Linked DNA regions of Homo sapiens: all the other regions are linked to region 3. Evidence: fine-mapped expression QTL. A gene starts in region 3. Each other region holds a variant in brackets. All regions are shown on one strand. Distances are between the middles of the regions.

Region 1 (2,757 bases), 20 kb after region 3:
AGCCCAGAGGAGTTGTTGCAGTGGCGGTGGATGAGGGCGTGAGAGGACAGGGCCTCTGTGTGGGCAGGGGCTGTTTGCAATATCAGGAAGAAGGTGGATTATGAGGAGAAGGGATGACTCCTTGAAGCCCGAGCTGGTTTAGTGAGCAGAAGTTCCATATATACCATCATTCCTGGGGTGCGTCTGTGGCACGGGAGCGGCCCGTGTGACCCTCTGGATGAAGGAGGTTTTGTACCTGTTGAGTTGGAAACGTACCTGGTTAGAGTCTTTCCCAAGGAAATCCAGAACCCCTGGAGGGTGGAGGCCTTGTTCTGGCCGCCCCTGTGTCCTCAGCACTCAGCACGGGGCCCAGCATCGGGCAAGTACCGCGGAGTGTTTGTCGAGTGAGTGCATGACAGAGGAAAGAGGTTCCCTGCAGGCCTCTCCTGCAGCCCGCTGGAGCTGGGTGGGCAGAGGTGGCTGTGCCTGTTGGGGACTGATGTGAGCATGTTTCTTTCCAGGCCTTGGATGTATGGGCCACTGGCGTCACGTTGTACTGCTTTGTCTATGGGAAGGTGAGTGCCAGGGATGCCAGCAGAGCTGGGGCGGGTCCAGTGAGGCGGGCACGGGCGACGGATGCAGGCTCTTCCTTTTTGTCCTTAAGTGGCTTTTGAAAGAGCCCACCTGGCTCAGAGAAGGCTGAGAGAGAAGAGGCTTTTTCTATCTTTCTCTGGTCCCCTGCGGAGCGATTCTCGCGAAGGAGTCGCAGGACAGCAGACACCTAAGGGGAGGTGCCGACGATGGTGTTGCCACCGCCCCAGCCAGAGTGCTCCCCGTCCCTCTGTCCCTTGACGCCATTCACTTATTGAGCCATGTGTTCACTCCCTTGCTCATTTATTCGACAAATTGTCCTTCACCCCTACCCTGGCTGAGGCTGGACCCTGGGGACACCCAACGCTGACGTATCGGTGATCCCTGCCCGCAGGTGTGCCTGCTCTGGTGACCACACTAAGGGGCAGGGGGGAATTTCAGTGAACATGTTCCCAAGCCCCAGGCCCTGGGAGTGGAGGCCTGGCCACAGGTGGCGGTAATGGTGGTGGGTGCACCCAGCCTGGCCTGGCCTGGCCGCGGGTGGCAGTAACGGCGGTGGATGCACCCAGCCTCATTGTTCCCTCAGCAACTCATTCATTCAGTCAACATTTGTTGAACATTTACAGTGTGAGTTGAGGTCCTTCTCATGTAATGGGAGCCCAGACCTGCCCCCTACCCCTGCCCCCACCAAGGGAGGGGGGTTGATCCCCTGGCACAGGTCGAGGCCCTGGACCCACATCCTTTGTCTGCCTCTCCACCCCACAGTGCCCATTCATCGACGATTTCATCCTGGCCCTCCACAGGAAGATCAAGAATGAGCCCGTGGTGTTTCCTGAGG[A/G]GTGAGTTGTCCACCCAGGGGAACAAGGGGGCTACCACCCGCTCCTGGTGTCTGAGTTTTAGCAGAGCTTTTGCCCTCTGAGGACCCCACCCCAGCCTGCAGATATGAAGGTGGCGGTGCTGTTCCCTGGGAGGGACCCCTGAATAGATGGACGGGAGGGACTCTGGAGCCAAGGGTCTCCGCAACGTCACTGTGTGGATGGGAACCCTGAGATCCAGGGTTGGCCAGGGATGACCACAGGCATCATTCACACCACTCCTTCACCGCAGGCCTGCCTGGGGTCAGTGGCGCCAGCCCCACCCAGCCCCTGGACTCAAGGGGAACTTCTCCTTCCCCCACTCAGGGTCAGGGAACTTCAAGATGCCAGTGCGTGCTCCCCATTTCACAGATGGAAAAGAGGATGCTCTGGAGGAGAGCGGTCAGGGGGCTGGGACTCAAGCCACTCTTCCTCCCCACTCTTCCCATTGTGACCGAGGTCTCTGAGCGTAGCAGGGACGTCGGGGAGGCCTCTTGCTCATGCATGGTTCGCCTCATGACGGCCACCGTGGCAGCCACAGCCTGAGCTCCCAGGCTCCTCTTTTCAGCAGTGGATTTCAGGAGTGAAATGGAGGCCGGGTGCGGTGGCTCACGCCTGTAATCCCAGCACTTTGGGAGGCTGAGGTGGGCAGATCACCTGAGGTTAGGAGTTAGAGACCAGCCTGGCCAACATGGTGAAACCCCATCTCTACTAAAAATACAAAAATTAGCCAGGCGTGGTGGCGCACATCTGTAGTCCCAGCTACTCGGGAGGCTGAAGCACGAGAATTGCTTGAACCCAGGAGGCAGAGGTTGCAGTGAGCCTGGGCGACAGAGCAAGACTCTGTCTCAAAAAAAAAAAACAGAAGAAAGAAACTGAATAAGGCCGGGTGCGGCGGCTCACACCTGTAATTCCAGCACTTTGGGAGGCCAAGGAGGGCGGATCACGAGGTCAGGAGATCGAGACCATCCTGGCTAACACGGTGAAACCCCATCTCTACTAAAAATAGAAAAAAAATTAGCCGGGCGTGGTGGCGGGTGCCTGTAGTCCCAGCTACTCGAGAGGCTGAGGCAGGAGAACGGCGTGAACCCGGGAGGCAGAGGTTTCAGTGAGCTGAGACCGTGCTACTGCACTCCAGCCTGGGCGACAGAGCGAGACTCTGTCTCAAAAAAAAAAAAAAAAAAAAAAAAACAAAAAAAAAAAAACAAAAAACAACAAACAAAAAAAGAAAATGAAACGGGACTTGTACTCAGCGACTCCTGCTCTCTTCTGCTTATTTCCTGTGTGGTCCCCAAGCCCTGCTGAGCCCTCCTCTTCCCTGTCTCTGGGCCTT
Region 2 (2,757 bases), 170 kb before region 3:
CAAGATGGCCAGGATCATGGTAGAAAAGACAGTGAGGCTGGTGCCAAAGTCATCAATGAAGGGAGGCAGAGGGGTGAGCGTGATTGTGTGGAGAGGATCAAATGAGGTCATTTGTGAAAAATACTTAACACAGTATCTGGCACCCAAGTAGTGGTGGGAGGGATGGGTTTATATTCACAAAGAAGATAAATAATCTCATCTCCATGCTTCTGGGTAACTCTCTTGAGCCCGTCAGAGGGACTCACTTGCTGTTTTGTGTGTTACCTTCTATAGGTATTATATTTGTATTTACTTAAGTTCCTGTGCCGCTTTGCTCAGCTGACTGCCACTTGCTCTTTTTCATGTAAGAAATCATTATTATTATTAAGAAAAAGATGTTCTGGCAATTAAGTGAATCAGTGATTTCCTCTGTTTCTAGTTATTTTGGACACCTGGAAGGCTGTGGTGCTGATCTACACAAAGAAATTCGAGACACTTACTATCAACTTGTTCTGTTTTTGGTCAAAGCAGTTAAAGGATTTAGTAGCCTAAATGACAGGTACTGGATAACTTTATCATTTCTAGAGAAAAAAAATGTATTTTTTTCTGATTATAAAAGAAATATATGTTCACTGTCAAAAATACCAAAAAGCACAAAGAATAAAATAAAAATAACCTCTAATGTTACCACCTAGAGAGCTAATCACTAATGTTAACTTATTCGTATATTTTCTCCCAGTCCTTTTTCTGTCTGGTGTGTATATTTTCTTTTTAAGGGGATGAGTCTGGGTTTTTCTAAGAATTTATAGCCTATTATTTTCTGTTTTGGTATATTAGGGATTTTTTGGTTTGTTTTGAGACGGCCTCATGCTGTCACCCAGGCTAGAGTGCAGTGACTCAATTGTGGCTCACTGCAGCCTGGACCTCCCAGGCTCAATTGATCTACTCACCTCAGCTTCCTAAGTAGTTGGGACTGCAGGTGCATGCCACCATGCCCGGCTAATTTTCTTTATGTTTTGTAGAAACGGGATTTTGCCATGTTGCTCAGGCTGGCCTTGAGCTCCTGGGCTCAAGCAGTCTGCCTGCCTCGGCCTCCCAAAGTGCTGGAATTACAGTCATGAGCCACCACGCCCAGCCAGTATATTATGTATTATGTACAGTTTGAAAAC[G/A]AGTATAAAGCCATTTCCCAGTCCTCTTAGTAAATGGTTTAGACATAAGCCTTAAATCAAATGATTCTTCGGTAAATCTAAACTGCATAACCTTGGCTAATTTGGAGCTGGCCCTGATCTTGCAGTTTATCAGAAAGTGATTTTCACTTCTCAGTTCTTTACCATAAGATACCCCTGTGGTGGTCCTGGCAGGGTGGAAACCTTACTTTACACTTTTCAGAGTTATTTTGTGTAAGCTTTGAAGGATGTTTGTGTGGAGTATGAGGAATTTGAAAGGAACCCAAACCAGCAATGTGAAGTTCCCTTCTGCTTTCAATTGCAAACCAGGTCACCTACTTGAATTGCTTCTGTTGCCTCTGTTGGGAGTAAGCAGCTCTGCTAATGGTCACTTTCATGGCCCTTTAGGTCCTTGCTCCCTGCCTTATCCTGTGTTCAGACAGCCCTGCTTCATCTTTTGGATATGGGCTGGGAACCCAATGATCTCGCCTTCTTTGTTGATATTCAGTTACCAGATCTCCTCATGAAAATGTCACAGGAGAATATAAGTGTCCATGACAGTGTGATCAGGTAAGAGCACGGTCCTGCGCTCTGCAGTTCCTAATGTAGGTTATGAAACGCAAGGAACATAGTGGGGGCGTTAAGAGCACAGACTCCGGAGCTAGACTGTCTGTGTCATATCTTGGCTTTGCCACATCCTAGCCGAGTGGCCTTGCGCAAGTCTTATAATCCCTCTGTGCCTCAGTTTCCTCATCTTCAGAGCTGGAGATAACAATGGTGCTGCCTCCGAGGCTTGTTGTGATGAGTACCTGAGTTATGTATTTCAGTGTTTAGAACCGCGTCTGGCATGCAGTAGAGCTATGTACATTGGTGGTGGTGAACTCGTGAGCTCTGAGGCCGAGAATCCTCTGCATTTTGGTGATCTTAGTATAGCTTGCTGAATTGGGAAATCCTTTCCATAATTTTTGTTACATGTATATGTTATGTTAGCCACTCTAACTTCTTGCACATTATAAGGACCTCAGTTAGAAAAAAGTCATGTATGAAGGGTTTTTTCCCTCCGATTTGGCCCGTATCTCTCCACTCTACTCAAATCCACTTCCCTATTCGTGGCCATTCATGTGTAGAAAAGAGGAGAAGGGGAGGGGGAATGCACTAAGAGGAGAGAAGTGGGAAGAAGTGAATGAGTCAACACCAGGACAGTCTCCACTCTCTCAGGAGAGCGGTTCCAAGGGAAAAGGGGACAGAATTAGAGCCGTCTCTTTAGTTCACGAACCTCAGCTGTCGCCTCGCTGTTGGAGCTCCGTTGGCAGAGGCGGGGCAGCACTAGGGGGCATGAGCCTGTGGATCTTGGCTGTGGGCCTGCTCGCGGTTTCTCGCTTTGTCTCCCCGCACGCCACAGTCCTCAGGGAAGGAAGCGCGCCCTTTACAGCAAGCCCCCGTGGCACCGAGCGCAAAGCTTGAGTATGAGTGTAGGCCCAAAACCATTTCGTTGGAATGCATGAATGAATGAATGTGTATTTGTAGCTTGGTAAATATTTTGTATTTGCTCTTAAGCAAATCTTTTTCTGTTTAAAGTTCTATTTGTTAAAACGAGCTGTAAACTGAAATT
Region 3 (2,757 bases):
CCATGCGACAGGCTGTGTGCTGGACGAATCAGGCACAGTGCTTGCCATCCAGGAGCTCCCAGTCCCAATGAGGAACCAGCAGGTAAACAGATGCCAGGTACAAGGAAGTACCTGGGTGGGGCCACTAACCCATGCTGGAAGTGGGGAGGTCATGGAGAAGGTTTCCAGGCAGAAGTAGGATTGAATTGAACCCTGAAAGACGAGTAGGCGTTAAACAGGCAGGTGGCTGGGAGTAAGGCTATACAGGGCTTGATTAGACCTATTCTCACGGTGAGCCATAGAAAATGCCTCTCGGTGGACTTGTGTTCCTGAAAACTTGCTCTGGGTGCCAGGGAGAGAAAGGCTAGTAGGAGGTGAGACTGGATGGGGCTGGAGGCCAGGGAGGAGGCTGCTGCAGCAATCAGGGACAAGATGGTGGTAGCCTGAGCTAAGGGAGGGGAAGTGGGGTGGAGAGGAGTGGGCCGATTCCAGGGATAGTTAAGAGGCAGTATGGCAGGGCCTGGAGATGGACTGGTTGGAGCAGGAAACAGGGAGGCAGCAGGTGACTCCCAGGCTCCTGGCTCCACTTCGAGACAGGGACGCAGGAGGTTAGATTTGGGGGAAGGATATGGGGCAAGTGGTGGTGCCAGAGGATTCACACGCGGAGGCGTTAGGGGAAGAGGTGGCGGCAGAGTCCCCAGGAACAGCCACAGCGAAGGTCACCTCACTGTCCTGCTGAGTTCCCTCTACTCCCTCGGCCCTCGCTAGGCCATTCCTGTCGCCGGCTCACCGAGCAAGCACTTCACTCTGTGCTAAGCCACCTCTCGGCCTCTCTGCCCCCGCCCCGCAGAAGCTACACTCCTGGGCCTGCCATTCAAGGCCTTCCTCCCCGGGCCTCGCCCCTCCCTCGCACGCACCGCGCCTCGCCCGGGAGGGAGGGGCGCTCTGGCTCCTGCAGGCCGGGATGGGGGCGCAAAGGGTTTGGCGGGGAAGCACGGTCCCCTGCAGGCCCAGGAGAAGGGCCCACGCCGCGGCCGGGAGGGACTTCGGGGACCCCAGGACGCCGGGGGCGTGGCGAGGTCGGCCCCGCCGCAGGGGAGGGAGGGCCCCTACCGCGCCGCCCACCGCGGTCCCTTAGTCCAGGAGGGGGCGGGAGTCCCGGGCTCCGATTGGGCGGCGCTGGCGGGGCCGTTCGCTCCGACCAATGAGCGCCGGCCGGGCGCGGCGGTGGGCGGGGCAGCGAGCGCTGCCCGGAGCCGCGGCGCCCGCGGGCTGAGCTCGGCGATCTGGGCCCCAGCGAGGCGGTGGGGCGGGGCGGGGCGGGGCGGGGCGCGCAGCAGGAGCGAGTGGGGCCGCCCGCCGGGCCGCGGACACTGTCGCCCGGCGCCCAGGTAGGGATCGGCGGGGCGGGGACGCGGGCGAGGAGCAGGAGGACGAACGCCTTAACACCTGCCCCGAGCCTGCAAGGGAGAGGCGGGGGGGGTCTGCCAGGCCGCGTCTACGAGGGAGCTGGGATCTGGTCAGGGCGGGGATCCTTCCCCTTCTGTCTGCGGGGCCGGGTCTGCGGGGTGCCTCGCGGAGTCTGCTCGGGTCTGCGCCGGCCGCCGGGACCGCATCGCCGCGGGTGCCCCGCCGTCTGCGTTCTTCCCCGCTTCTGTCTGCGGACCGCATCCATCCCCGGTGCACTGTCCCCCGCGCCCGGCTCCTGGTGGAGGCCACGTCTGTGCGGAGTGGGCCCGGCCCGGGGCACCCACGTGCGGTTCTCCGCGGAGCGCTCCTCCCACGGCCCGCCGGAGCGTCTTCCTGCAGGAGCCGGGGGCGGGGTGGGAGATGAATGGGGCGGCGGCGGCGCGCGGCTCAGGCTGCGCAGGGTCCTGCCTTGGCTGGGGCGAGAGGGGGCGGCAGAGGCGGGCGCTGCGGCTTCGGGGCCCGGGAGGCGCAGGGCTGGTGGCTGGGGGGGTGTCCACGTGCGCAGGGACCTGCGTGTGCTGTTTGGAGGCGGGTGTGCGTGTGTCACGTGGACGCGGGAGTGTGCCTGTGTCTGCGTGGGGGGTGCAGGACAGGATGGAGTGGTGTGTGAGGGCGGGTCACGCGGACACGGGCGTGTGCCTGTCAGGGGAGGGGGTGTGCTCAAGTCTTGGCGTTGCAGGGCTGTGCAGAGAAGGCTGTGTCACAGGCCACAGGACCGGGCCTTGGTGGTGTCCGCAGGGCGGGCACAGGAGTGTGGGAGGGGCACACAGCCTGTGCGCGCTGGAGGATCCCAGGGAAGTGGCGCTGGCCTCCCCAAGCCCTGCCCTCTTTCCTCCAGTACATACAAATTGACCCCCCACTGCGTCCCAGGCGCACACACTCTGGGGACCCTTCGCCTCTTCCTCGGTCTCCCACCGTCAGTCCTCACAGCAGCCATGGGAGTCGTTTTAAACCTCACCTAACCGAGGCACTCCCCTGCTCACAACCTCCCCCTGGCTTTGGGGGCCTCCTGGGCTCTGTCCACCAAGCTCTCCCCACCCCCAAACCAAGCCCGGAGTCCCAGCCAGGAAATGACTCTCCTATATGCACAGTGCAAACTTCCATCCTCGCCTCATCCTGAAATCCTGCTCAGTGCTCAGAAGAGAGCTCAGGTGCCACCTCCTCTAGGAAGCCATCCCTGAGGCCAGCACAATGAGTGAGGGGGCTTTCTCTCCAGATGTAACTCCTCTTGCTATCAGGTGCCTCTTATGTGGGGAAGACTCCACTCCAGCCACGTCAGCCTCCCTGCTGTTCTTCATACTGAGCAAG

Alleles and levels. Positions count from the first base shown, and alleles are read on the strand shown. Sizes are in standard deviations (SD) of each study's normalised expression. Not every link is listed here.
As copies of A replace G in region 2, the expression in stomach of the gene that starts at base 1,256 in region 3 goes down (large effect, 0.78 SD a copy in GTEx).

The links. PIP is the estimated chance that this variant, and not a neighbour inherited with it, causes the effect.
Region 1: its variant is fine-mapped to the expression of CAMKK1 in whole blood (TOPMed, PIP 0.97).
Region 2: its variant is fine-mapped to the expression of CAMKK1 in stomach (GTEx, PIP 0.97).

What each region holds. Positions count from the first base shown.
Region 1 is chr17:3,871,206-3,873,962 of GRCh38, reverse strand. CAMKK1 (calcium/calmodulin dependent protein kinase kinase 1) reads left to right here. Exons shown (of 16, transcript NM_032294.3): 11 at 501-554; 12 at 1,336-1,409. Among named protein-coding and RNA genes, the nearest start is that of CAMKK1, 20 kb to the left of the region's middle. The variant A/G (reference allele first, on the strand shown) is at 1,409.
Region 2 is chr17:4,056,952-4,059,708 of GRCh38, reverse strand. It overlaps ZZEF1 (zinc finger ZZ-type and EF-hand domain containing 1), which reads left to right. Exons shown (of 55, transcript NM_015113.4): 31 at 419-538; 32 at 1,554-1,715. Among named protein-coding and RNA genes, the nearest start is that of LINC01975, 81 kb to the right of the region's middle. The variant G/A (reference allele first, on the strand shown) is at 1,149.
Region 3 is chr17:3,891,552-3,894,308 of GRCh38, reverse strand. It overlaps CAMKK1 (calcium/calmodulin dependent protein kinase kinase 1), which reads left to right and starts at 1,256. Exons shown (of 16, transcript NM_032294.3): 1 at 1,256-1,370. RefSeq lists silencers at 810-1,349, 1,380-1,559, 1,700-1,949.